Homo sapiens: one gene and its partner. The protein of the gene in region 1 purifies or fractionates together with the protein of each later gene. This does not show direct contact. Each region holds a gene or a part of one and is shown in the gene's direction. Other genes may lie near its edges. The genes, in order: PRKD2 and TRIM40.

What was found.
Region 2: the proteins of PRKD2 (region 1) and TRIM40 purify together in Homo sapiens (affinity purification with mass spectrometry; 2 studies listed by BioGRID). This does not show direct contact.

What each region holds. Positions count from the first base shown.
Region 1 is NC_000019.10:46,703,312-46,719,827, reverse strand, and holds the start of PRKD2 (serine/threonine-protein kinase D2), read left to right. Parts: upstream 1-3,017; 5' UTR 3,018-3,457; coding exon 3,458-3,697; intron 3,698-3,777; exon of another isoform or gene 3,778-5,418; intron 5,419-5,507; exon of another isoform or gene 5,508-5,826; coding exon 5,827-5,965; intron 5,966-8,789; coding exon 8,790-8,921; intron 8,922-10,473; exon of another isoform or gene 10,474-10,546; intron 10,547-15,178; coding exon 15,179-15,333; intron 15,334-15,436; coding exon 15,437-15,659; intron 15,660-16,516. Other genes in the region: uncharacterized protein LOC107987269, read left to right, coding at 765-1,182, 1,326-1,475, 1,852-2,029, 2,651-3,017.
Region 2 is NC_000006.12:30,136,722-30,146,518, forward strand, and holds part of TRIM40 (E3 ubiquitin ligase TRIM40), read left to right. Parts: exon of another isoform or gene 1-11; 5' UTR 12-315; coding exon 316-660; intron 661-9,272; coding exon 9,273-9,368; intron 9,369-9,797. UniProt on the Homo sapiens protein: E3 ubiquitin-protein ligase that plays a role in the limitation of the innate immune response. Mediates inhibition of the RLR signaling pathway by ubiquitinating RIGI and IFIH1 receptors, leading to their proteasomal degradation.

The sequences.
Region 1 (16,516 bases):
CGCCCATGGGTAGAGACGGCTTTCTTGTGCCCCTCCCTGGGGCATGGAGGGTGGAGTGGGCCTCGGGTCCCCCTGAACTCCCTGTATATCTGTATAAATAACGGGATTTTCATGGCGCCGCCCCACCCGCATTATCACTGTGTGATGGTCTCAGTCAGTCTCCTCCCTGTCTCCACTCTTTCCCTCTATTTATTTCACTCTCTTGTTTGGTTCTACCCTGCACCCTCGGTCCCCTTCCAGGTTCCTGTTTATAAGCCCCAACCCCTCTGTCCCCATCTTGTATGTGAAAACTTGTCTCAATAAACCCTTTGGAGTAAGATGGGTGACGGTGCCATCTGTTGAGGGCACTGGGGACTTTGGGGGAGGAGTGACCGGCTCTGCCTGGGTTGGGTGGAGTTTGGAGAGAGGGGATATGATGGGTTGGGGTTTTGTGGTAGGGCAGCAGGGGCCGGAGACGGGCCCAGAGCTTGGGTGGGGTGTGGGTGGAGAGAAGTGGAGGCACTGGACCGAATCTCCTTGTGCCCTTTCTGTCCCTAAGTGCTCCCTCCCCAGGGGTAGAGCCCTGGGGAGCAGATACTATGATGACAGTCCAGCTGAAGCCTCAGCCCCGCCTGGGATGTGTGAGGGTGGTGGCGAGGCCAAAGGGCTGGTGCCCAGAGGACGTAAACCCCCTTCCTGTTCCCATCCCAGGCCCACAAGGAGCAGGGAGGGAAAAGGCTGCACCTGCCAGTGGAGGATGATGGCTTTGGGGCGCAGGCTCCTCCATGCTGGGAGGAGGTGCCGCAGGTGCCCGAGCCCTCGTGGCTCATGTCCTGATGCGTCCCTCCTTTCCCTTCTCAGTGGTCCACGTCTACTGTACTGAGTGCTTTACATGGCATTTCACTGGGTCCACAGCCTTAAAAAGAGGGAGCAGGTGTCCACATGCTCCAGATGAGACGGAGGGGACCGCTGCTCCTGTCTCGAGGAGGCTTCCACCACCTACCAGCCAGGCGTCCTCGGTAATCCTAGCACCTCTGCCACAGGGCACTAATGCCCAGTTCCTGGGTTGTAAAGGGCTGTGCCCCAGTCCCCCAGCAGGCCCCAGTGAACATACGAGAAAGGATGGAGGCCGCTGTCTGGACACTCAGGACATGGCAGCGTTTTGCTGGGACAGTCATCTGCCCTTCAGGAAAAAGGGTGCAGGTGGGCAGGAGGCCCTTAGATGACGCCAAGGGGAGCCTTCGTGGGCTCCACGTGGTGTGCTCCCTGCCCATCCCTCTGGGCTCAATGCAGTTCCCCAGGTGGTGGTTTGGGTTTTCACTCCAGCCTCAGACTTCCTTCCTCAGCCCCAGCCCCCGGATGTGGTGACAGAATCGATACTGTACCGACCTCAGCTACCCCCAACGGCCGTACACCAGGAAGAGGGGCTCTTCTGGCAGCCCCCATCCTCAGCCAGCCCTGCCATTTCCAGTCCTGCCAGCATCCCAGCCAGACAGGTGGCCCTTCTCTTAGAGCTCAAACCTAGGCCTTGACTTGTCAATCAAAGGGGTGGGTGGGGCAGCTTCCCTCAAGCAACTTCACTCTGGGATCTTGGGCAAGACGTTTTGCTTCTCTGAGGCTTCAGCTTATTCTGTGTAAACTAAATGGTAGCCACTATTTGATTATTAGCTGGGGAGGAGAGATCAAGCCTGACCCCTGTAGCGGCTGGAGTTTTACAGCAGGGCCCACCCAGCACCCAGTAGGTCCTCACAGATACTTGCTGGGTGACTGAATGGGTGTGCCCACCCATCAAAGCCTGAGTGCTGGAGGTGGCCACCCCTTTCCGCGTATTATCAGAGACAACCACCTCTTACTGAACTGCTGCGTTTCCAGGCACCAGTATACCATGGCATCGGCTCCCACCATCCCATGTGGGGTCAGTCCTATTACAGTCCCAACAGATGGAGGGACTGAGGCTCACAGAGAAGCCACTCACCCAAAGTCACATGGAGAGAAAGACACGCACACGTACTCCACATCCCCAGGAGACACACTCTGCATCTATGAAGTGGTATGGGTGTGCTGTCCTCCCTCGGGGCAGCCCCACACTATCCTAAGGCGGGGTTGGGGTGGGCGGGGGGATGGACCCTCCCCACCCATCCAGTTAGCGCCATGCACCTTGCCCACCATCGCTGGAGACAGACCTAAGGCGAGCCCCTTCCTACCCATCTGGAGGCCTCGGTCTTTCCATGTGTTAAATGGGCTGGGGCCGGGGGACGCTCTGCAGCACCCCCTTCCCTGGGCTGGGACGCGGCGGGGAGGGCAGGGGTGACGCTCGGAGAACAGAGAGGCCGAACCCAGAGAGCGGGCCGGGACCTGATACCGATTTCCCACCCGTCCCCTGCCATGGGCGCCGGACGCCTGCCGGAGAGGGCTCCCCTCCTTAAAGGGCCAGTGGCCTCCAAGCCCGACGCCTGCGACCGGCGGTGGGTGATAGTGTTTCCCCTCCCTGTCCAGCCGAGGGAAAAGTTAACTTTCCAGGCTTGGCTGTGTTCAGGGAAGGAACTGGTCTCGCCTGCCTGCCCTCCATCCCTCACACCATCCCTTGTCCCGGACCCTGGAGGCGGAGGTCCAGCCCCCAACTCGGAGGCCCCGGGCCCACCCTCCCCTTCCGCCCCCGGCCCCTCGGCAGGCTCCGCCCCTCTCTGACGTCGCCGAGGCCCGCGCCGATTGGTCGACTGCACTGTCGCTCCGGACACTTCCTCCTGGGCCGCCGCCGCCGCCGCCGACTTAAACTTTGGAGGGGGAAAAAGAGCTACTGGCGCCTGGCGACCCTCCCTGCCCCCCACCCAACCCCGCTCCGGCAACGCCCCCTTCCTCACGGCTCCCGACCGAACTTTTCTCCAACTTCTGCGACTCGTGAGATTCCCTTCTACCCACTCCGGCCCTCGGGACCCCTCTGCCCATCCCCTGGCCGGTCGGGTCCCTGCGAACCCCTTTATCTCTGGAATCCACTCGGTCCCCGACTCAGAGACTCCTGCCCTCCACCCCCAAGGTGAATTCCCCCGGGCCGCCTTCTGAGTGGGATCCTCTTCTTGGAGCACTGGATCCTGGGATTCCCTCTGCCCCCTTCTCAATCCCTCCTCTAGGGAAGGGGCCTTTGAATCGCGGGCTCTCCTGATCCCTGTGACCCCGACCTACTAGATTTCCTCTCAGGCTTCTTGGAATCTCAATCGCTGGGACCTCCAACCCACTACTTTTCTCCTTTCTGATCTTCTGGGAGCCCTGGATTCCGGGCCTCTGACCCACTATAGTGCCTTTCTCTCCTTCCCAGGACCCCGCCATCCTCAGGTCCCCTCCGCCTGCCAGATCTTTTCTCGGATCCCCGCTCTCCCACCACCTGCTCACGAGATCCCGCGGATCTAGAACCCAGGGTCCCCCGGGGCCCCCCGGCCGGGTCCCGGGTGGGCTCCAGGCGGCCGGTCCCCGGCCTCCCCCCATGGCCACCGCCCCCTCTTATCCCGCCGGGCTCCCTGGCTCTCCCGGGCCGGGGTCTCCTCCGCCCCCCGGCGGCCTAGAGCTGCAGTCGCCGCCACCGCTACTGCCCCAGATCCCGGCCCCGGGTTCCGGGGTCTCCTTTCACATCCAGATCGGGCTGACCCGCGAGTTCGTGCTGTTGCCCGCCGCCTCCGAGCTGGCTCATGTGAAGCAGCTGGCCTGTTCCATCGTGGACCAGAAGGTGAGGGCGCAGGCTCCCTGGATCCAGCTCGGGGAGAGGTTGAAGGAGGGGGCGCTGGCAGAGGGGTCTGGGGCCTGGTGTGCGGAAGAGGGAGGAAGGAGACCTGAGCTTTGGGTGATGGAGGGATAGGGGGCATTGCCCCCCTCCATTGCCCCTCTCCCCACCATCCCTTTGAGAGAGGACTGGGCAGGGGTGGGGTGCCCCAGAGGCCTCCCCAAATTTCATGTCCCTGCATGTCGTTGTTTTCTGCAGCAAACAGGGAGGAAGGGAGGGGCCAGCCAGGTGTAGAGAGGGGAGGAAGGGGCAGCAGATGTCGGCGGACCTCCACGTCCAGGCCCATCCCGGGCCTCCCATTTGGTGGAAACAGGAGAAATTGAACCCGGGCTGGCCATGGTGATCCGGTGACATGTGTGGGTGCAGGTGCTTGAGTTAGCTGCCAGGGGCAAGTGAGGTCTCGGAGCCCAATTCTGCCCTCCCCTAAGCCTGAGATATGTGTGGAGGGGCAGGCACTCCTACAGACCCTGGGGACTCTATTCCCTTTCCTAGTCACAGTGCTGTTAGCCTACTCTTAATTTTGGACACCAGGGTCCCCAGGGTGGGCAGCTGGGTGTTATGGCAAGAGGAAACCAGGTGGAACTCCACGTCTAAACCGTGAAATGTTAAAAGAATAGTGGGCTTCTGTGTTGGAGTACTGGACTGTAGAAATGTTAGAATATTAGAATCATAACTTGTTGGAATATGCATCCTAGGCAATTAAATTGCCCCCATGTTCGTGTTCAAATATTAGAATTCTAGGTTTGTGAAATAGTAAAACATTAAAATGCTGGAATATTAGATTCCTAGATTGTTGAATCCTAGAAAGTTAAAATGTTAGAATTTTAGAATGCTGGATGGATGAGGTCCTTGAATGCTAAAGAATTCAAAGAGCACAGTCCTAGCTTGTCAGACTCCTAGAATATTAAAATATTAGATTACCGCTTATTTAGGTTATTGAAATCCTAAAATGTATAGTGATACCAGGTAGGAATCTAGAATGTATAATTCTATAATGTGAGCATGTTGGAGTCCCAAAATATCCAAATTCCAGAATCTTTTCAGACTCCTGGAAATGAATCCTTTGGGCATCAGAGAAACGTGGGGAACTGGGCCAGCTCCCCCATTCTACAGACAAGGAAACTGAAGCTTAGAGAAAAACTTCCCAAGGGGTCAGGGCCAAGGCAGTCCTGGTCTTCTGTGGACTCTCTCTTAGCAGTGAGAACTGATAGGGTTTTGCCCACCAAATGCCTCAATCCCGCAGGCCCAGCTCACCACCCCAACTCAGCCCACTTCATGGGAAGCTGGTGGCAGTGGGGGTACGGGGGCAGATTGTCCCTTGGGTGAACTTCTTTGTCCAGTGCTCAAGTCCCCAGCCTGCCCCGCTCAGGCTTCACCCCAGTTTTATTTTTCTGCCAGGTCCAGGTGTGTTAGGGCCGCTTACCTTCCTTCCCGAGGCCCCACCGGGGCAGTTTCACTTTCTGTTCTACTAGGTTTCATTTCCTGCCCCCAGGCCCCCAAAGCTGAGGACCCAGACACCTGGGTCCTTTGAGCATTGGGTGGCAGGCGCCCTCCTTATCTCCAGCGCCCTCGAGTCCAAGTCCCCCGGCCCCCCCCCCCACTTTCCCAGGAGCCCCGAAAAGTCCTCCTTCCAGCTCGCCCCACCCCAGTGCTGGGCCTGGAGCCAGGTAACTGGGACAACAATAGACAGATCCAGGAAGGAAGCTGGGGGGCGGGTGTGTGAGCCTGGGGAGGAGGCACAGGGGAGGGAGTGTTCATTCAGCATCCCCTCCCACCTCCGCCAGGTTCCGGAAAATTCGAGGTGTCCACGCTCCCGGAGCCACTCTCCCTCCCACCCCAGCTCCCCCTTCCAGCCACCAAACCCACGCCGGCGCCCCCTCCCCGTACAATTGGGGCGCTGGCATCCTGCCCGGCTCGCGCTGGGGTTGGGAGGGGGCAGGCAGGAAGCGAGGGCCTGCGGGGTCTCTGCGTTTCCGGGGGAAACAGCCGGCCCTGCCCTGGGAGGGTCACAGTCCGCCCGCTGCTGAAGGCGGCTCTGAGCTTTTCCGTCGCCACATCCCTCTCCCGCCCCTCAGTTCCCTGAGTGTGGCTTCTACGGCCTTTACGACAAGATCCTGCTTTTCAAACATGACCCCACGTCGGCCAACCTCCTGCAGCTGGTGCGCTCGTCCGGAGACATCCAGGAGGGCGACCTGGTGGAGGTGGTGCTGTCGGGTGAGAGGTGGTGGCCGGCCTGGGGGCGGGGCCTCGGGTGGGGGCGGGGCATCTGGGGGAGGAGAGGGTAGGGGGAGTTAGAAGTCAGGAGAGGCCGGGTGTAGTGGCTCACGCCTGTGATCCCAGCACTTTGGGAGGCTGAGCTGGAGCTGGGGGGATCGCTTGAGCCCAGGAGTTCGAGATCAGCCTGGGCAACATAGTGAGATTCCATCTCTACCCCTTTCTCTCCCTCTGAAAAAAAAAAATAAGGAGAGTTGGGGGCTTCTGGAAGATGGTTACAGAGTGGGGTCATGAAGGCGCTCTTTAGGGACTGGTCTAAACTTTCATTTATGGATTAGGATGCTAGTGACACGCTTTGTACAGTTTGAAAATTCATTGAGCTGTGCACTTGTGATGTGCGGCCTTTCCTGAACATATGTTATACTTATTTATTTATAAAACTAGTCAAGTGCAGTAGTTAGAAGGGGGAAAAGAGGAGAAGAAGGAGTTGGATCTGTAACTGACTGTGTTATGCTTAAATATAAAGGTAAAAAATGGGCCAGCTGCAGTGGCTCACACCTGTAATCCCAGCAGTTTGGGAGGCTGAGGTGGGAGGATCGCTGGAGCCCAGGAGTTTGAGACCAGCCTGGGCAACATAAGGAGACCCCATCTCTTAAAAAAAAAAAAAAAAAAAAAAGTTAACCGGGCGAGGTGGCACACGTCTGTAGTCTCAGCTACTTGGGAGGCTGAGGTGGGAGGATTTCTTGAGCTTAGGAGTTTGAGGCTGCAGTGAGCCACGATCATGTCACTGCACTCCAGCCTGGGCAACAGAGAGAGACCCTATCTCTAAAAAAGAAAAAAAGTAGAAAAAGAAAAAAAAAAGTTATGATGTCCATGGCTCCTGCCACGAAAATGCTAAATTAAATCAGAATCTCTGCAAAGTGAGATGGAATCTGCACATCAGTATTTTTAAAAGCCCCCAGGTGATTTTCTAAGACACAGCCAGAAGCCAGTTCATCCACTCACTATTCCAGTAGTATAGATGGGCATGCTCTCAGCACCTTAGAGCAGTCTATGGCCCTTGGTCCCTCTTGAGGGTGGGGGCAGCTGCCTTTTTCATGGCTGCCTTCCCTGCTGCTCCGGCATACTGCAGTGCCCAGTGAAACCGGCTCAATGAATGAATGACAGAAGTCTGGATTTACACCTTTAGTGACCTTGTTCAGGCTTTAAGTACTCTTTCATATCATAAGCTGGCCTCACTTGAATTTTTATCTTCATTGTTGTCTCTCCCCTAAACCTGAGTTTTGTTTTGTTTTTGTCATTTTTATTATTTTTTGTTTTTTTAGACGGAGTCTCGCTCTGTCACCCAGGCTGGAGTGCAGTGGCGCAAACTCAGCTTGCTGCAACCTCTGCCTCCTGGGTTCAAGCGATTCTCCTGCCTCAGCCTCCCGAGTAGCTGGGATTACAGGCGCCTGCTACCACACGTGGCTAATTTTTGTATTTTTAGTAGAGACGGGATTTCACCTTGTTGGCCAGGCTGGTCTCGAACTGCTGATCTTAAGTGATCTGCCCACCTCAGCCTCCCAAAGTGCTGCGATTACAGGTGTGAGCCACCGCTCCCGGCCCTGTTATTTTGTTTTGAGGCAGGGTCTTGTTCTGTCACCCAGGCTGGAATGCAGTGGCATGACCACCACTCACTGCAGCCTCTACCTCCCAGACTGAAGCAATCATCCCGCCTCAGCCTCCTGAGGTGGCTGGACTATAGGCATTACAGGCATGCACCACCACACTGGGCTTTTTTTTTTTTTCTTTTTTTTAGACAGAATCTTACTCTGTCACCCAGGCTGGAGTGCCGTGGCATGATCTTGGCTCACGGCAACCTCTGCCTCCCGGGTTCAAGCAATTCTCCTGCCTCAGCCTCCTGAGTAGCTGGGATTACAGGCACGCGGCACCAGGCCTGGCTAATTTTTGTATTTTTAGTAGAGACGGGGTTTCATCATGTTGGCCAGGCTGGTTTCGAACTTCTGACCTCAAGTGATCCGCCCACCTGGGCCTCCCAAAGTGCTGGGATTACAGATGTGAGCCACCGGGCACCGCCTATCCATGTTCTTTTTTGTTGTTGGTGGTGGTATTTTTAATTAAAAATTTTTTAATTTGGTAAAATATACATAACATAAAAATTACTATTTTAGGCCGGGTGCAGTGGCTCACGCCTGTAATCCCAACACTTTGAGAGACCGAGGCGGGCAGATCACCTGAGGTCGGGAGTTTGAGACCATCCTGGCCAACATGGTGAAACTCCGTCTCTACTAAAAATACAAAAATTAGTCGGGTGTGGTGGCGCATGCCTGTAATCCCAGCTACTCTGGAGGCTGAGGCAGGAGAACTGCTTGAACCCGGGAGGCGGACTTGTGGTGAGCCGAGATCTCACTACTGTACTCCAGCCTGGGTGACAGAGTGAAACTCTCTAACAAACACAAACAAAAAAGCCCACAACATTTTAAGCACTTTTAAGCGTACAGTTCAGTAATTTAAAGTTCACGCACACTGTTGTGCAGCCGGTCTCCAGAACTGTTGTCATCTTGCGAAACTGAAGCTCCTTGCCCGTTAAACAACTCCCCAATTCCCGCTCTGTCCCTGCCCAGGGCGTAGGGATATATGTGTTTTGTTCAGGGGTGGAGCTGGGATTTGAACCCAGGCAGAATGTAGTATGAGAGCAAATGAAGGAAGGAAGGAAAGATCACACCTTGCGGCTGGGAGCACTGTGAGAAATCAGGGAACGTGGGGTCTGGAAAAGCTTTGGCCTACCCCGCCTCAAGCATCCACCCCTATTTTCCGCCTACAGCCTCGGCCACCTTCGAGGACTTCCAGATCCGCCCGCACGCCCTCACGGTGCACTCCTATCGGGCGCCTGCCTTCTGTGATCACTGCGGGGAGATGCTCTTCGGCCTAGTGCGCCAGGGCCTCAAGTGCGATGGTGAGAGCTAAAGGGTTGGGGGCGGGGCCTGGGGCGGGGCTCTGCACCGGGGGCGGAGCGTAATGGTCCTGGCACGGGGACAGCGTGGGGAGGAGGAGCGGGTCTCAGAGCTGGGGGCGCAGCCTAGGAAGTAATAATGGGAAGAAGGATGGGCCCAGAAGCAGAGCTTGGGGAAGGAGTGGTGGGGCTGGGCCGGGGCTCAGGTCTAGGGGCGGAGCCTAGGAGGTGGAGCTGGGAGGGACAAGTAGGGGCTTAAGAACAGAGCCTAGGGGAGCAGAAGGGTGGCGGGGGAAGAGGGTGGGGCCTCTATCAGTTAGGGATCAAGCAGAGAAACATCCAGGAGGAGATATATATTGAGATATTTATATGCAAGGAATCAGCTTACAGAATTGTGTGGGCTGGCTAGGCAACTCAAATCTGGCTGGGCACAGTGGGGGAGGCCAGTAATCCCAGCACTTTGGGAGGCAAAGGTAGGTGGATCACTTGAGGCCAGGAGTTCAAGACCAGCCTGGGCAACATAGCAAGACTCTGCCTGTACAAAAAATAATTAGCCAAGCATGGTGACAGACACTTGTGGTCCCAGCCACTTGGGAGGCTGAGGCGGGAGGATCACTTGAGCCTGGGAGCTCGACACTGTAGTGAGCCCTGATTGCACCACTGCACACCAGCCTGGGTGACAGAGCGAGACCCTGGCTCAAAAACAGGAAAAAGGCCGGACACGGTGGCTCATGCCTGTAATCCCAGCACTTTGGGAGGCCGAGGCGGGTGGATCACGAGGTCAGGAGATTGAGACCCTCCTGGCTAACATGGTGAAACCCCGTCTCTACTAAAAATACAAAAAATTAGCCGGACGTGGTGGCACACGCCTGTAGTCCCAGCTACTTGGGAGGCTGAGGCAGGAGAATTGCTTGGACCTGAGAGGAGGAGGTTGCAGTGAGCCGAGATTGTGCCACTGCACTCCAGCCTGGTGATAGAGTGAGACTCCTTCTGAAAACAGAAACAAAAACAAAACAATAAAAAGAAAAAGAAAAAAAAATCCATCCTATCAGGAAGGGCAAGTGGGAACTCAGGCACAAGCTGAAGCTGATGTCCACAGGTGGAATTTCTTCATCCGAAAAGTCTCTGATCTGCTTTTTAAAACATTCAGCTGATTGAATGAGACCCACCTAGAACAAGCAGGATCACCTCTCCCACTTACAGTCAGCTGATTATGGATTTTCATCACATCCAGAAAATACCTCCACTGGGCCGGGTGCGGTGGCTCACGCCTGTAATCCCAGCACTCTGGGAGGCCGAGGCAGGTGAATCACCTGAGGTCAGGAGTTCGAGACCAGCCTGTCCAACATGGTGAAACCCCGTCTCTACTAAAAATACAAAAAAGCCGGCGTGTTGGTGGACGCCTGTAATTCCAGCTACTCGGGAGGCTCAGTCAGGAGAATCTCTTGAACCCGGGAGGCAGAGCTTGCAGTGAGCTGAGATTGCACCATTACACTCCAGCCTGGGCAACAAGAGCAAAACTCTGTCTCAAAAAAATGAAAAGAAAAGAAAATACCTCCATGGGGCCTTCTCTTCCCAGTTCTTCCTGGAGTCGGGGAAAAGCTGGGTTGAGAAGGTGAAAAGAAAAAACAAACCTTGACTGGGCACAGTGGTTCACACCTGTAACCCCAGCACTTTGGAGGCTGAGGCAGGCGGATCATGAGGTCAAGAGATTGAGACCACCCTGGCCAACATGGTGAAACCCCATCTCTCCTAAAAATACAAAAATTAGCGGGCGTGGTGGCATGTGCCTATAGTCCCAGCTACTTGGGAGGCTGAGGTAGGAGAATCACTTGAACCCAGGAGACAGAGGTTGCAGTGAGCCGAGATCGTGCCACTGCACTCCAGCCTGGCAACAGAGCGAGACTCCGTCTCAAAAAAAAAAAAAAAAAAAAAAACCACAAACAAACCAACCTTCATGGCAACATCTAGATTAGTGTCTGAATAACTGTGGATCTCGCCTAGCCAAGCTGACACATTAACATGACTATCAGGGTCCATCTCTTGTCAACCTGGCACCTGTCTTAGTTTGTCAGGGCTGCCTTAACAAAATACCACCCTGCGTGGCTTAAATGACAGACATTTACTTCTCAAAATCCCTGGAATTGTGAGAGGCTGGAAAGACAAAGATCCAGATTCTGGCAGGGTTCTGTTTCTGGTGTAGCCTGCTTTCCTGCCTTGCAGAGGGCCATCATTTCACTGTGCGCTCACATGGGACACGGAGAGAGAGATCCCTGGTATCTCTTCCCTTTATAAGGAAGGCCAGGCATGGTGGCTCATGCCTATAATCCCAGCACTTTGGGAGGATGGTGGATCGCTTGAGTCCAGGAGTTCGAGACCAGCATGGGCAACATGGTGAAACCCCGTCTCTAAAAAATACAACAAATTGGCCAGGCATGGTGGTGCATACCTCTAGTCCTAGCTACTCAAGAGGCTGAGGTGGGAGGATCACCTGGGCCTGGGAGGTTGAGGCTGCGGTGAGCCGTGATCATGCCACTGCACTCCAGCCTAGGTGACAGAACACGATTGTCTCAGAAAAAAAAAAAAAAAAAAAAAAAAAAAGGTCACCAGTCCCATTGGATTACAGCCACACTCTTTCGGCCTCAATTAACCTTAATTACCTCCATAAAGGCACCGTCTCCAGATATAGTTGCATTGGAGGTTAGGGTTTCAACATAAGAATTTTGGGGGAGACACAGACATTTAGTCCATAACAGCACCCATACATATCTCCTTAAATCATAGTTTAAAAATATACAGGTTTTCTTTTTTGGAGACAGCGTCTCAGTCTGTCACCCAGGCTGGAGTGCAGTGGCGCGATCTCAGCTCACCACAACCTCCACTTCCCAGGCTCAAGCGATTCTCCTGCCTCAGCCTACCGAGTAGCTGGGATTACAGGCACACACCATTACTGCCCGGCTAATTTTTGTATTTCTAGTAGAGACGGGGTTTCACCACGTTGGCCAGGCTGGTCTTGAACTCCTGACCTCAAATGATCCACCCGCCTTGCCCTCCCACAGTGCTGGGATTACAGGCATGAGCCACCGCGCCTGTCCAAAACATACAGTTCTTTAAGCCAAGATGTCTCAAGGTTCAGCCCAAGTGTCAAGATCTATATAGGTCCTCTGTCCCTGTTATTCATGCTTCTGAGTGAGAATGTTGAAATCGGGGCTCTGCCTACAGATGAAGGCCATGTACCTGCATTGGCTATGAGGACAGATGACAGGTGAGGACCATCCATTCTGTGATGAGACCCTGTGGCTCCATTGTTTTGTGTGTGTGAGACAGAGTCTTGCTCCGTCACCCAGGATGGAGTGCAGTGGCGTGGTCTTGGCTCACTGCAACCTCTACCTCCTGGGTTCAAGCAATTCTCCTGCTTCAGCCTCCCAAATAGCTGGGATTACAGGTGCGCACCACCACTCCTGGCTAATTTTTGTATTTTTAGTAGACGGGGTTTCACCATGTTGGCCAGGCTGGTTTCAAGTAATCCACCCTCCTCAGCCTCCCCAAGTGCTGGGATTACAGACATGAGCCACTGCGCTGGGCCCCATGCGCCTCCATTTTTGTATGGTGTGCCCTGCAATTAGAGCCATATTCTTGGATGTTCCATTGGGTATTAGGTCTGAGACAGCATCTCTAGCTCCGTGGGTGCCACGCTTGTACAGAAATCCTGATTCTGGGCCAGGCACGGTGGCTCACACCTGTAATCCCAGCACTTTGGGAGGCCAAGGCGGGCGGATCATGAGGTCAGGAGTTAGAGACCAGCCTGGCCAACATGGTGAAACCCTGTCTCTACTAAAACTAGAAAAATTAGCTGGGTGTGGTGGCGGGTACCTATAATCCCAGCTACTCGGGAGGCTGAGGCAGGAGAATCATTTGAACCTGAGGGGGTGGAGGTTGCAGTGAGCCGAGATCATACCATTGCACTCCAGCCTGGGTGACAGGGTGAGACTCCGTCTCAAAAAAAAAAAAAAAAAAGAAATCCAGTTTCTCCAATATCCTGTGTTCCAGATCATCATGCAGTCCAAAGTATACTTGTATTATTTAAGGACTCTAGGCCTGCAGATACTGATTCAGTGCATTAAAAGCTCTTATAAATATTGCCATCGTCCACACACCATATCCAACTCTTGAGGTCTCAGCATATGCAGTCTTTGTCATGATACAGCCCTGGTGTCATCAAGTCCTAATGGGTTATCAGCACAGACTTCACTGGTGCAGCATCACAGATGATGGTCCCAGTTCCTATGGTGGCAAGAGAACCCCAAATGACTACATTCCGACAGGAGTTTAACTCTATCCTGAGACTCATTCTGAGAGTTATAGATAAGATTCTGAAATTCTGGAAGGCACATGAGTGATTCAAGGCCAACACTGGGAAATGGTTCCTGTGTGCAAAGACCATTTGCCCTGCTGAAGCTCTTCTTGCAGGGCCAACACCGTTCTCCAAGCTTGCCTCCGTGATTACAGCATGCAGCCAAGACAGTGCCTACAATGAGGAGGTGTGGAACTGGAAAGCCTGGAGCAGGCGGGTACCAGAAGGGCTCCCAAAGGCTGGAGGAACATTCTTCACTCCAGAATAGAAAGCGATCCTGGAATCGTTTGGAATCACTGGAGATGTATTAGAGCACACATACAGAACGTCCAGTGGGAAACAGGGAGTTGAGCTGATTTCTCCATGGATGAGGATTTTAAAAGATAAAATAGGCAGGGCACAGTGGCTCATGCCTGTAATCCCAACACTTTGGGAGGCTGAGGTGGGAGGATCACTTGAGCCCAGGAGTTCAAGACCAGCCTGGGCAATGTAGCGAGACCCCATCTCTACAAAAAAATAAAAATAAAAAAATTATCTGGGCATGGTAGTGTATGTCTGTGGTTCTGGCTACTCAGGAGGCTGAGGCAGGAGGATTACTTGAGCCCAGGAGTTGAAGGCTGCAGTGAGCTATGATTGTGCCATTGTGCTTCAGCCGGGGGTACAGGGAGATCCTGTCTCTACAAAATAAAATAAGACAATAAGAAGTCATACTTCTGCCTAGTATGGTACAATGGACCTGAGTACAACTGAGAACTCTTTTTTTTTTTTTGAAACTGAGTCTCGCTGTATTGCCCAGGCTGGAGTGCAGTGGCGTGATCTCAGCTCACTACAACCTCTGCCTCCTGGGTTCAAGTGATTCTCCTGCCTCAGCCTCCGGAGTAGCTGGGATTACAGGCGTGTGCCACTACACCCGGCTAAGTTTTGTATTTTTAGTAGAGATGGGGTTTTGCCATGTTGGCCAGTGTGGTCTCAAACTCCTGACCTCAAGTGATCCGCCGGCCTTGGCCTCCCAAAGTGCTGGGATTACAGGCGTGAGCCACCATGCGTGGCCCACACTACTAAGATTTAATCACACTACTTAGGGATTGCCTGGATTCCAGGTCTACAGAAAAGAGAAAGTGGGGTACAGGGGGTGAGCAGACCTGGAGGGATAGTGACCTTAGGGGTGGGGGTGAGGAGAGGCATTTTCTTTTGGAAAGTTGGGGTTGGGGAAAGAGGGGGAACCAAAGGGGCCTCAGAAAAAGGAAGGTCAGGGTTAGAAGGGGGAACAGGTGTCTCTAGGGAGATGGACAGGAGTTTTGGGGAGGACTAGAAGGAGGTGCTTACCATAGAGGACTGGGGCTGGGTCAGAGCTTTGGCGGGGACTTTTGAGGCATCCATTGTTGCAGTGGGAAAAGGTGGGGTGTGAGGCGCGTTCAGGGCCTGGGGGGCAGATGGGGTGATGTCGGGGCTACAAGCTGGAACTAGGGGTGGAGCTTTGGAGGGAACCTTTGAGGTATCCCTTGTTGGAGTGGGAAAATTTTGGGTGTGAGGCGTGTTCAGGGTCTGGGGGACAGATGGGGTGATGGCAGGGCTACAAGCTGAAACTGGGGACAGAGCTTTGGGGGGAGCCTTTGAGGTGTCCCTTGTTGGAGTGAGAAAAGGGGTGTGGGTGTGTTCAGGGTCTGGGGGACAGATGGGGTGATGGTGGGGCTACAAGCTGGAACTTGGGGCAGAACTCTAAGGAGGGGTGGGCCTGAAGGGGCTGATACACTTACGGATAGTAGTGCCTTTTGGAGGAGATCGTGCTGGCGGGGGGTGATGGGACAGGACCAGGTGAGAGATTGGGTGGAAAGGGCACAACTTCTCAAGAAGAGACCTAGGAGGGGCAGACGCCATGTCTCTTACTCTCTGGCGCCCCCTGCAGGCTGCGGGCTGAACTACCACAAGCGCTGTGCCTTCAGCATCCCCAACAACTGTAGTGGGGCCCGCAAACGGCGCCTGTCATCCACGTCTCTGGCCAGTGGCCACTCGGTGCGCCTCGGCACCTCCGAGTCCCTGCCCTGCACGGCTGAAGAGCTGGTGAGGAGATGGGGGATGGGACGGGTTGGTGGCTAGGGGGGTGACTTGGCCCAGGCATGGGGCCAACGCACTGATGTGTCCCCTCCATTCTTGCCAACGACAGAGCCGTAGCACCACCGAACTCCTGCCTCGCCGTCCCCCGTCATCCTCTTCCTCCTCTTCTGCCTCATCGTATACGGGCCGCCCCATTGAGCTGGACAAGATGCTGCTCTCCAAGGTCAAGGTGCCGCACACCTTCCTCATCCACAGCTATACACGGCCCACCGTTTGCCAGGCTTGCAAGAAACTCCTCAAGGGCCTCTTCCGGCAGGGCCTGCAATGCAAAGGTTAGCTGGGCCTGTCGGGGAGGACAGACAGGGTCAGAACCTCCTTCCCGCCCCAACCTGGTCTTGTGGCAGGACACAAGGATCTGAGCCTTGGGACCCCAGGGCCTCAGAAGGGGAGGGCCCTGAATCCTAGTGTTCTGGGACCTTTGGAATTCTGGAATCTTAGAACCTCAGTTGTGTGTGTGTGTGTGTGTGTGTGTGTGTGTGTGTTGTTGTTGTTTTTTGGAGACAGGGTGTCACTCTATCACCCAGGCTGGAGTGCAGTGGCGCAATCACGGCTCACTGCAGCTTCAACCTCCTGGGTTCAAGTGATCCTCCTGCCTCAGCCTCCCAAGTAGCTAGGACTACAGGTGGTGCCACCACACCCAGCTAATTTTCTTTTCTTTTTTTTTTTTTTGAGACGGAGTCTCACTCTGTCGCCCAGGCTGGAGTGCAGTGGTGTGATCTCGGCTCACTGCAAACTCTGCCTCCTGGGATCAGGACATTCTCCTGCCTCAGCCTCCTGAGTAGCTGGGACTACAGGCGCCCGCCACCATGCCTGGCTAATTTTTTTGTATTTTTAGTAGAGACGGGGTTTCACCATGTTAGCTAGGATGGTCTCGATCTCCTGACCTTGTGATCCACCTGCCTCGACCTCCCAAAATGCCGGGATTACAGGCGTGAGCCACCGCGCCTGGCCACACCCAGCTAATTTTTAAATCATTTGTAGAGAGAAGGTATCACTATATTGTTCAGGCTGGTCTTGAACTCCTGGGCTCAAGCAATCCTCCTACCTCGGCCTCCCAAAGTGCTGGGATTACAGGTGTGAGCCACCGCGCCCAGCTGAACCTCAGTCTTTAGAACCTTGGAATCCTAGA
Region 2 (9,797 bases), on another chromosome or scaffold:
GCTTCCTCTAGGTGTATGAAAAATAATTTCAAGTTTAACAAACACAAGGAAACCGCAGGGTCCATGTCAAAGCTGATGAGCTATTTCTGAAACTCGTGCAGAATTGTGGTTTGTGTGGTCTATGTCACGGCACCCTTGAGGGAGAGTGGGCAATTGCCTGAACTTGGAGGCTGTGTCCTGTCCCCAGGCTGCTCCAGGGCTGCCTCCTTCCGACTGGGCCTTCTTATCTGGGACTGTTGAGGGCAACAGGCCTTCCGAAGACCAGTGAAGAAGGAGGCCCTGCAAACAGGAGGCTGACAGGGTAGGAACGAGGCCATGATCCCTTTGCAGAAGGACAACCAGGAGGAGGGTGTCTGCCCCATCTGCCAGGAGAGCCTGAAGGAGGCCGTGAGCACCAACTGCGGACATCTCTTCTGTCGAGTGTGCCTGACACAGCATGTGGAGAAGGCCTCAGCCTCTGGGGTCTTCTGCTGCCCCCTCTGCCGGAAGCCCTGTTCTGAGGAGGTGCTAGGGACAGGCTATATCTGCCCCAACCACCAGAAGAGGGTGTGCAGGTTCTGTGAGGAGAGCAGACTTCTTCTATGTGTGGAATGCCTGGTGTCCCCTGAACACATGTCTCATCATGAACTGACCATTGAAAATGCCCTCAGCCACTACAAGGTAAGCCTGGGTCACCGCAGCCAGGCCCTGCCTCCACCTCGCTGAGGTGCTGCATCCTACATGTTCATCATGCCTGGCACCTCAGAGTAGCTCAACAATGGACATCTCTCTTTGTTTCTTCTGCTTCATCCTGTTTTGGACCCTTGTCTTGCTTTTCTGTGTATATTTTGAGGCTGATGTTTCCATGCATTAATGTGAGTCTGTCTAAAAGAGGATATTGTCAGTGTGATGTTAGAGTCCCAGTCTGCTCATCTGTAGAATAGAGTAATTGGACTAACTAATGCAAAACCCTTTCAGGACTAAAACTGTGTGAACTCCTGGTTGATAGTACTAGAAACTTGGCTAGAAATGTAATCAGGTTTTATATACACTAGTAATTATCCTGCAAATATATTAAAACCTGAAAGTTACTACATAATTTTTTCTCTCTTTTTCTTCCTTCTGCATTTGTCTTATCTTTCCTTTTCCTTTCTTTGCTATGGCAATTATTTTATCTTATTCTGTTAAATTTTCTATCACAAAAGTTACATGCTGTAGGTAATAAATTCAGAAAGCACTGAAAGGTATAAAGTCAAGACTAAAAATTTGTCTTCCTTTCTCCCTCCATTCATAGTCCTCAGAGGTAACCATTGTTTGATTTTTGTACATCCTTCCAAAAAATGTGTGTGCTTATGAATGCACTCTTACACACACACACACACACACACACCCTCAAAGGATTCTCTCTATATTTTTTTCTGTAACTCATTTTTGTTATCTAAAAGTGTGGCTTGAACATTTTCTCATCAGCATGTATAGATCTTCTGAATTATTTTCAAGAACTGTGTGGTATTAAATTCTATGAATGTACCATAAATTGGCAGACATTGGGTCATTTCCAAGCTATTGTTTTGTTTTAAGATTACACAGAACGTTCTAATGAATATCCTTCAACATATATATTGGAGGACCTAGAATATCCAAGATATATTTTGGTGAGAGCATAAGGTAGAAATCTAACTTTAGTTTTTCCAAGTTATAATCAATTTGTCCTATCACCATTTGTTGAATGATTCATATAGTTTCCCCATTGATTTGAATGCCAATGTCATAATATACCATATATGCATATTTTCTTGCATACTGCCTTGATTCTTTGTGCTGTTCTATTCTGTCTATGCTTGCCTATAAGCCAAGGTATTTTAGAGATTTTATCCTTACCATATATTTTAATGTCAGGTATTTTGATAGAATCCTCACAATACTCTTATTTTTCAGAATTCGTGCAGATATTTGTATATCTTTATTTTGCCAATTAGCTTTGGAATTATTTTTATCAACCTTTCCCCTGACCCTAATCCAGTTAGTATTTGACTGGACAATTGACAATATTTTCACATGGCATCCTTCTATCCAATAGTGAAGGCTGAACTTCCAAAGCTGAGGTAGCTTTGAGATACTTGACTTTTGGAGAACATGTTATGATACAGAATGAGAAAGTGGGGAGTCCAGATTAAAAGTGACTACAGAAAGGTAGAGAAATAATTGAAAAAGCCAGAGGCAAAGTTCTATTTGGTTCTAACATCATTCCCTCCAGGTGCAATGTCCACAGGAGAGTGGGGAGGGATTCCTCACCTGCCGATGAAGCAGCATAAGATGGAGAAATTTATTTCCTCACTAAATGATTTTTTCAGGTCTGTCCTTTGTGTTAGATGTCATGCTAGGCATTGTAGAAAGTACAAAGATGATTCATAATTCTTGTTTCAAATCTGTCTTTAAATAATGACAAGAAAGCTAAAACAAATAAATAACGATGACACTTGTTCATTAAGTAAAAACTTAGTAAGTTCCTGCTGTGTGTGAGAAACTGCAGCATGTGCTAGGAATCAATGAAGACAGATGCCATTCCTTCTGCCAGGAGTTTGCAGTGTAGTAAGGGAGACACAAATAAGTAATCAAAGAACTGTAACTTTTTTTTCTTTTTTTTTTTTTTTTTTTTTTGAGATGGAGTCTCATTCTGTCACCCAAGCTGGAGAGCAGTGGCATGATCTCGGCTCACTGCAACCTCCGTCTCCCAGGTTCAAGCAATTCTTTGCCTCAGCCTCCCGAGTAGCTGGGATTACAGGCACCCACCACCAGGCCTAGCTAATTTTTGTATTTTTAGTAGAAACAGGGTTTCACCATCTTGGCCAGGCTGGTCTTGAACTCCTGACCTCATGATCCATCTGCGCTGGCCTCCCAAAAGAACTGTAACTTTTTATTAGTTAGGAAGAAAATAAACAAGGGTCTGGGATGAACAGTAATGGGTGGCCCATGTCCATTTGGTCAGTGAGGGCCTCATAGAGGAAGTGACCTTGAAGCTGAGGGCTGGCAGAAGAGAAATCAACCTGCAAAGACAGGGGGTAGGGAGTGCATACAGATGCCCACACCTGAGAAGTCTTGTTATATTTGAAGAATTTATCATTAGAGTTTGAATCGACAGGACTTACTGAGAGATTAGAAGTGGGTTCTTTGTAAGAAAAAAACAACCCCATCAAAAAGTGGGCAAAGGATATGAACAGACGCTTCTCAAAAGAAGACATTTATGCAACCAACAGACATATGAAAAAATGCTCATCATCACTGGTCTTTAGAGAAATGCAAATCAAAACCACAATGAGATACCATCTCTGCCAGTTAGAATGGCAATCATTAAAAAGTCAGTAAACAACAGATTCTGGAGACGAAGTGGAGAAATAGGAACGCTTTTACACTGTTGGTGGGAGTGTAAATTAGTTCAACCATTGTGGAAGACAGTGTGGTGATTCCTCAAGGATCTAAAACCAGAAATACCATTTGACCCAGCAATCCCATTACTGGGTATATACCCAAAGGATTATAAATCATTCTACTATAAAGACACATGCACACGTATGTTTATTGTGGCATGGTTCACAATAGCAAAGACTTGGAACCAACCCAAATGCCCATCAACGATAGACTGGATAAAGAAAATATGGCACATATACACCATGGAATACTATGCAGCCATAAAAACAGATGAGTTCACGTCCTTTACAGGGACGTGGATGAAGATGGAAACCATCATTCTCAGCAAACTAACACAAGATCAGAAAACCAAACACCACATGTTCTCACTCGTAAGTGAGAGTTGAACAATGAGAACACGTGGACACAGGGAGGGGAATATCACACACCAGGGCCTGTGAGGGGATGGGGGGTAGGGGAGGGATAGCATTAGGAGAAATACCTAACGTGGATGACGGTTTGATGGGTGCAGCAAACCACCATGGCACGTGTATACCTATGTAACAAACCTGCATGTTCTGTCCATGTGCCCCAGAACTTAAAGTATATATATTTTAAAAAGTGGGTTGAAGGAAGGAGGAAGGTCAAAGATGACTTCATGAGTTTCTGGTTTGAGAAACTGAATAGATGATGTGAAAGATAATAACTTGGTAGAACAGGTTTGAATGCAACACCAAGAGTTTCATTTAAGACAAGTTGAGTCCAAGTTGAGACACATCAAAATAGGATCTTACATACGCAGCTGGATCACAAATTTAGATCTCCAGAGTCTTATTCCTAGAACCTAGAACAAAGATCCATCCAGGCAAAGACAATATTTAAATCCAAGAAAAGCGGGCACGGTGGCTCACACCTGTAGTCCCAGCACTTTGGGAGGCCAAAGTGGGAGGATCGCTTGAGCCCAGGAGTTCAAGACCAGCTTAGGCAACACAGTGAGATACTATCTCTAGAACAACAACAGCAACAACAAAGTGAAATTAACAGGATTTAAAAAAAAGAACGTGACAATTTGGGGCTGGGTGCAGTGGCTCACGCCTGTGGTCCCAGCTACTTGGAAGGTTGAGGTGGGAGGATTGCTTGAGCCCAAGAGAGTGAGGCTGGAGTGAGCTGTGATTGTGCCACTGCACTGCAGCCAGGAAGACAGAGCAAGACCCTGTCTCAAACAAAGAAACAAACAACCAAGAAACCAAGGAAACTGATGTAATTGCCTCAAAAGAGGCTAGACAGAAAAAGAAGTTTTGGGGTAAGGTTCTGGGAAAGGCCGTCATTTAGATGTAGGCAGAGGAGGACCCAGCAAAGGAGACAGGATGAGTTGCCAGAAAGGCAGGAGAAAAACAAGGGGAATGGTGCCCCAGCTGCTAAGAGAGAAGGGTATTTTAAGAGATTATAATAGATTGCATTGAACAATGCTAACACTTCAGTAAGATGGTGGCAGAGGCATGAGAGCTGAGTTGGGAGGAGGCACACTTCTTCCATAGTAATAACAGGGAACAAGAGAAGGTGTCTGCAAGCCTACATAGTTTTGCAGTTTTGGAAATCCAGGTTTTGTTCTGGTTTTTATTTTCTCATAATATTTGAGGAAGGAACATCAGCAGTATGGGTGGGATCAGGATGGATGTGAAAGGTTTGAAAAGAAACAAGATGGTGTGATGCAGTGTGGGAGAGCGCTTACAAGAGAAACTATGTAGGGTTGGCAGACAGTATGTAGCACCAATTTGAGGTCTGAAATGTTTAACATGTTTCAGGAGGCTGCCTGAGGACAGACAGCAAACAAGAAGGTGATGGTACATTTTACCATGGATAAGGAGTTGTCTGAAAAGTAACACAGAGAGGGAGGGTAAGGGAGTTGAGTATATTTCTGAAGAAGTGATTATAATGGTGGACCTTATGTGTACTCATGGATATTGACAGCGTAATTTTGAAATTAAGGAGGGTTTTTTTTTACTGATTTTTTCACCATATCTCTATTTATTTGAATTAAACTTTGTAGTTAAGTATTGTAAATTTTGTTCTTTTAAAAGAATCATATAATCCCTGACTGTACTCTAAAAAGACCGAAAAATTTATAAAATCTACAAATTCTTATTTGTATACCTGTTTCCTCACTGACCAGTCAATGTCAGTGTCAATCACTTTAATGTATTTTGCTGGTTTAGTAAGTGTGTGACAGTGATGTACGTTGTTTTACTTTGCTTGATTATGAATGCTAGTAGTGGTGAGGCTTTTATCCATGAAGACTCGCTGTCTGCATTTTCCCCTAGAATCAGGGCATAAATTCTACATGATTGCATCAAAATAGTTTATCTTTTGGATAATGAGCTCCATTAGTTGTGTTTGTTTAACCTACATTTTTTTATTCTGTTATTTCTTCTTAATTATATTTTTGGGCAACTTTTTAGAAATTTGCATTTAAATTGGCTCTATTCTTTTTTATAATATAATCTCCATGTCTTAAATACACAGAAATTTGTTTAATATGAGTGTGCTGCTCTGTTTTATTTTTAAAGGTTTATTAATTCCTGGCTTACTTGGAATTTCATATAGTATGTTGTGTGAAGGATGACTCCACGTTAATTTTCCTTTATTCTGGTATCCAGTTGTTCCCAAAATATTTATATAACAGTGAGTCCTTTCCACATTTACGTGTTGTTTCTCGCTTGACATCAATTAAGTTCTCATGATGGGCTGTTTTTTTTTTACTCTAGTCCATTGATTATTCTTTCTGTTATATAGTTTTGACAACATGTTACTTTATGGTTTATTTTTAAATCTAGCAGCATTTTTGCCATTTAATAATTTTATTACCTGATATTTTTGCTGTCTTTTAAGATGAGTGCTTTTTTACAATGTTTCTAAATTTCATAGATCATTCCATAAGATTTTAATGGTTATTGCATTAAATTTGTTGATTACTAAGAATCATGACTTTTGGGGGTTTAGTTAGTCTTCTCAACCAGTACCAAGATACATCACTAACGGCTTTCCACTATGTATCTGAATCAGATATTAAATTGTCTTTACTTAAACCTCATGTGCCCTGACTCTATTGAGGGTAGCTATGTATTTTACAACACTATTTTTTTTGACAATTTTTACTTGTAGATTCAAATGAGATTCTTTGCTGAGCTCATGTATTTACCATACATTTTTAAAAATTTTCTGACATTTTCTAGATCATAATTGTGTGAGTGATGTTGTTTTTAATTCATATTTTTGGACACAGTTCTGTAAGGAGCATGCATTTTGAAAGCTGTTAATTTTTCTTTTTTTTTTTTTTTTTCAGTGTCAGGGATAGGTACTTTTTGTCTGTTAACCACTTTTCTTTTGTACATTGTGTTAGCAAGTTGTTTAAGAACAAATTTAATGCCCTTTTTTGTCAGATTTTAAAAATTTAATATGATTTAACCTGAATGACAGAATTTTAAAATATTCATTTAGACAAGACAGGTCTTCGACTATTTTCTAGATTTCAACTTGTCTTTTTTTCTCTGAGGAATATTTTGGTAGGTGAAAGTGTATAGAATTTAGCTTTTCAATTCTAATGAGTGTCTTATTTATATTATATGCACCCATTAAATACCTTTATGCAAAAATTGGTGAAAAAGTACTTTTTAGAAACAGAGGACTTTACCTTACTCATTTTGAATATTGTAAACAATATGACAGTATTATCTTCAGTCATTCTATGCCTTTATCTTTATTACTGTTATCTTTGCCTTCTTTTTTTCATTTACACAGTGTCTGTAGTTGGCTTTATTAAATTTTAAACTGCCAGATGATAGGACTGTGGCTTTTTGAACTGGACCTTAATAGGCCTGACTTTGACAGGCAGAAAAATAAAGCACTCCTGACAGAGAGAAGTAAAAGGCCATGAGGAGGTGTGGCTGCACGGGTGTGTTTGGGAAGCAGAGAGCAATGTTGTGTGCTGGTGAAGAGAGTTCAGTGAGCAGAGAGAGAATCCCGGACAATGTCAGTTGGGGCTGGGTCCTGGGGCACCTTGGATGCTGGGTGAAGGAGTTTGGGCTTATCTTTGTTGCTGAGAAGCCATTTTGAAGGGAGGACTAACATCAACAAAGGTGAAATGTGACAGATTTCAAGCTGAATGGCAGGCAGAATGGCAGTCCCAATGTCAGAAACATGAAGGTCAAGAGGAGTGGACTGCAGAAGAGCTTGGGGAACTGGGCAGCATGTTTGATTCTACCATATTGATTTTGAGCTGCCAACAGGGCAGTAGGCAGCACTTAGCTCTCACTTGGAAGCATGAGATGGATTGCTAGGAAAAAAGATTTGGTTTTGGAATTCTAAGATCTGAAGGCTCCAGAAAGGAAAGCTAAGGACATAGTCTGAGATAGAAAAGGGTTGAGGAGCCAACTTCAAGGCTCCTTTTTACAGAAAAAAATGAAGAGGCAAAGAAGCAGTGGCAGAAGGCACAGGTCTAGGAAGGATGGGGTGGAGAGGAGGTACAGAAAGGCACCTGCGGATTTCATGGCTGGAGATCTCAGGTGACTTTGGAGAGAGAGGCTTTAAAGGAGTGATGAGAAACAAGGCGGCTGGCTGAGGAATGACGACAGTGAGGAGGTGAAGACAGCAACACCAAACAACTTGACTGTGAGGGCAGCAAGTGAGTAGATGCAAGCGGTGAAGGCTGTTTGTGCTTTTCAGGACATGAACTCTTGTGCTCGCACAAACAGTTCCACACCAGCCTGCCACCTTCTTCAGCGAGACTCATGAGCGACATCCATGATGCCCATTTATTACTTCCCACTCCTATGACTTTTTTATTTCGTCTCTGCTGGGAAATGCCTGCAGGAAACACCCAGTGACGTGACACGTTTTTAGTAACTTTGTGGTGACATCACTGTCTTCTCTGCTTACTGCAGCTTTCTGTTCACCAAATGCCCTTGCTGACCCCTCACACACACAGTCCTTTGACCTTGATTTCACCAGGAAATTCTCAGGCTGGAAAGAACTTTCAGTTGTCTTCACCATCCCCTGACTTCTACCTGTACATCTCCAAAATCTCCTCAAAAAAGATTAAAAAAAAAAAATCTGAAGTGGGAAAGATTTAGTGAAACACACACTTTTCAGCTAATAGCACATCCTGATCTTTAGTTCACAAATCTCTTCTCGTTTTGTTTTCTATTTTATCATTCACCCTCCAACTGCCCCCCGAACCATGGGCAGCCATTTAAAGCATTTGTTGTTATTTTTGCTTCTCTTATAGGTCATCAAAAACCTGAAAGCAAAATTTTTTTAGAAACTCAAATCATTCTTTAACTCCATAGCTTCAAGGACACAGCGACACATCCAGATGCTGATTTAAGATTGAGAGAGAAGGCACTGCCTACCTGGGCTATGAGTTTGCACCTAGTAAAGGGCTCTATCTTGTCACTCATCCCAGTGAGGACCAGGCAGCAGAGGTAGCAGAGGGTTGCCATTTCCTCTTTAAGGCAATTCCCTCCAGACTGGCTCCATGTGTTACTGTAAAATAGTAAGAAGTGCTAGAAGACTGTCATATAACTTTTGTATGTTGAGAGAAAGCACCCTGAAGTCAAGTAGAAATGGTTCTGTTGCTATCTATTATTTTTTCTGTACTTCTAAGACTGTAAAAAAATTACCCATTACTATTTCCCCCCATCATTATCCAATAAATAAACTCTCAAGTCCCTTACTCCAACCATGATGCTCTAAAAGCATTTCTTTTTAGGCAGAATTTTACATTAGTTGCATTCTGGGATCAGGCCCCCTACCGTGTTCCATTGACTCCTCCCAGTGGGTGCCCCCCTCACTCCCAGTCTGACAAGCAGGTGTGTCTGTCTCTTTAGGAACGACTCAATCGCCGGAGCAGGAAGCTCAGAAAGGACATTGCAGAACTTCAGCGGCTCAAGGCTCAGCAGGAGAAGAAACTGCAGGCTCTGCAGGTGGGTTTTTCGGGTTCCTGGGAAGGACTCCCTGGAGTGTTCTCAGGAGCCCTTACTTAACTATTCTGGACATCTGTCTGTCCCTGGAACAGCCTGATGTGGGCAGATGGTCGTGGAGGCTGAAAACCCGGGTGTTGGCCTTGGCGTCAAAGTTTGCTGGTTGAGTGACCTACGCAAGTTAAGCCCTCTGATCTTTATGTGACTTACATGTTAAATGAGAACCAGTCCTGCTCTGCCTGGATCACAGTAGGGATCAAAGGAGACCAGTGTCTCGTCAACTGAAAATTACTACACAAGCCATAGGCCTCTGTTTCTTTTTATTTTATTTTATTTTTTTTTTGAGATGGAGCCTTGCTCTGTCGCCCAGGCTGGAGTGCAGTGGCACGAACTCCGCTCACTGCAAGCTCCGCCTCCCGGGTTCACGCCATT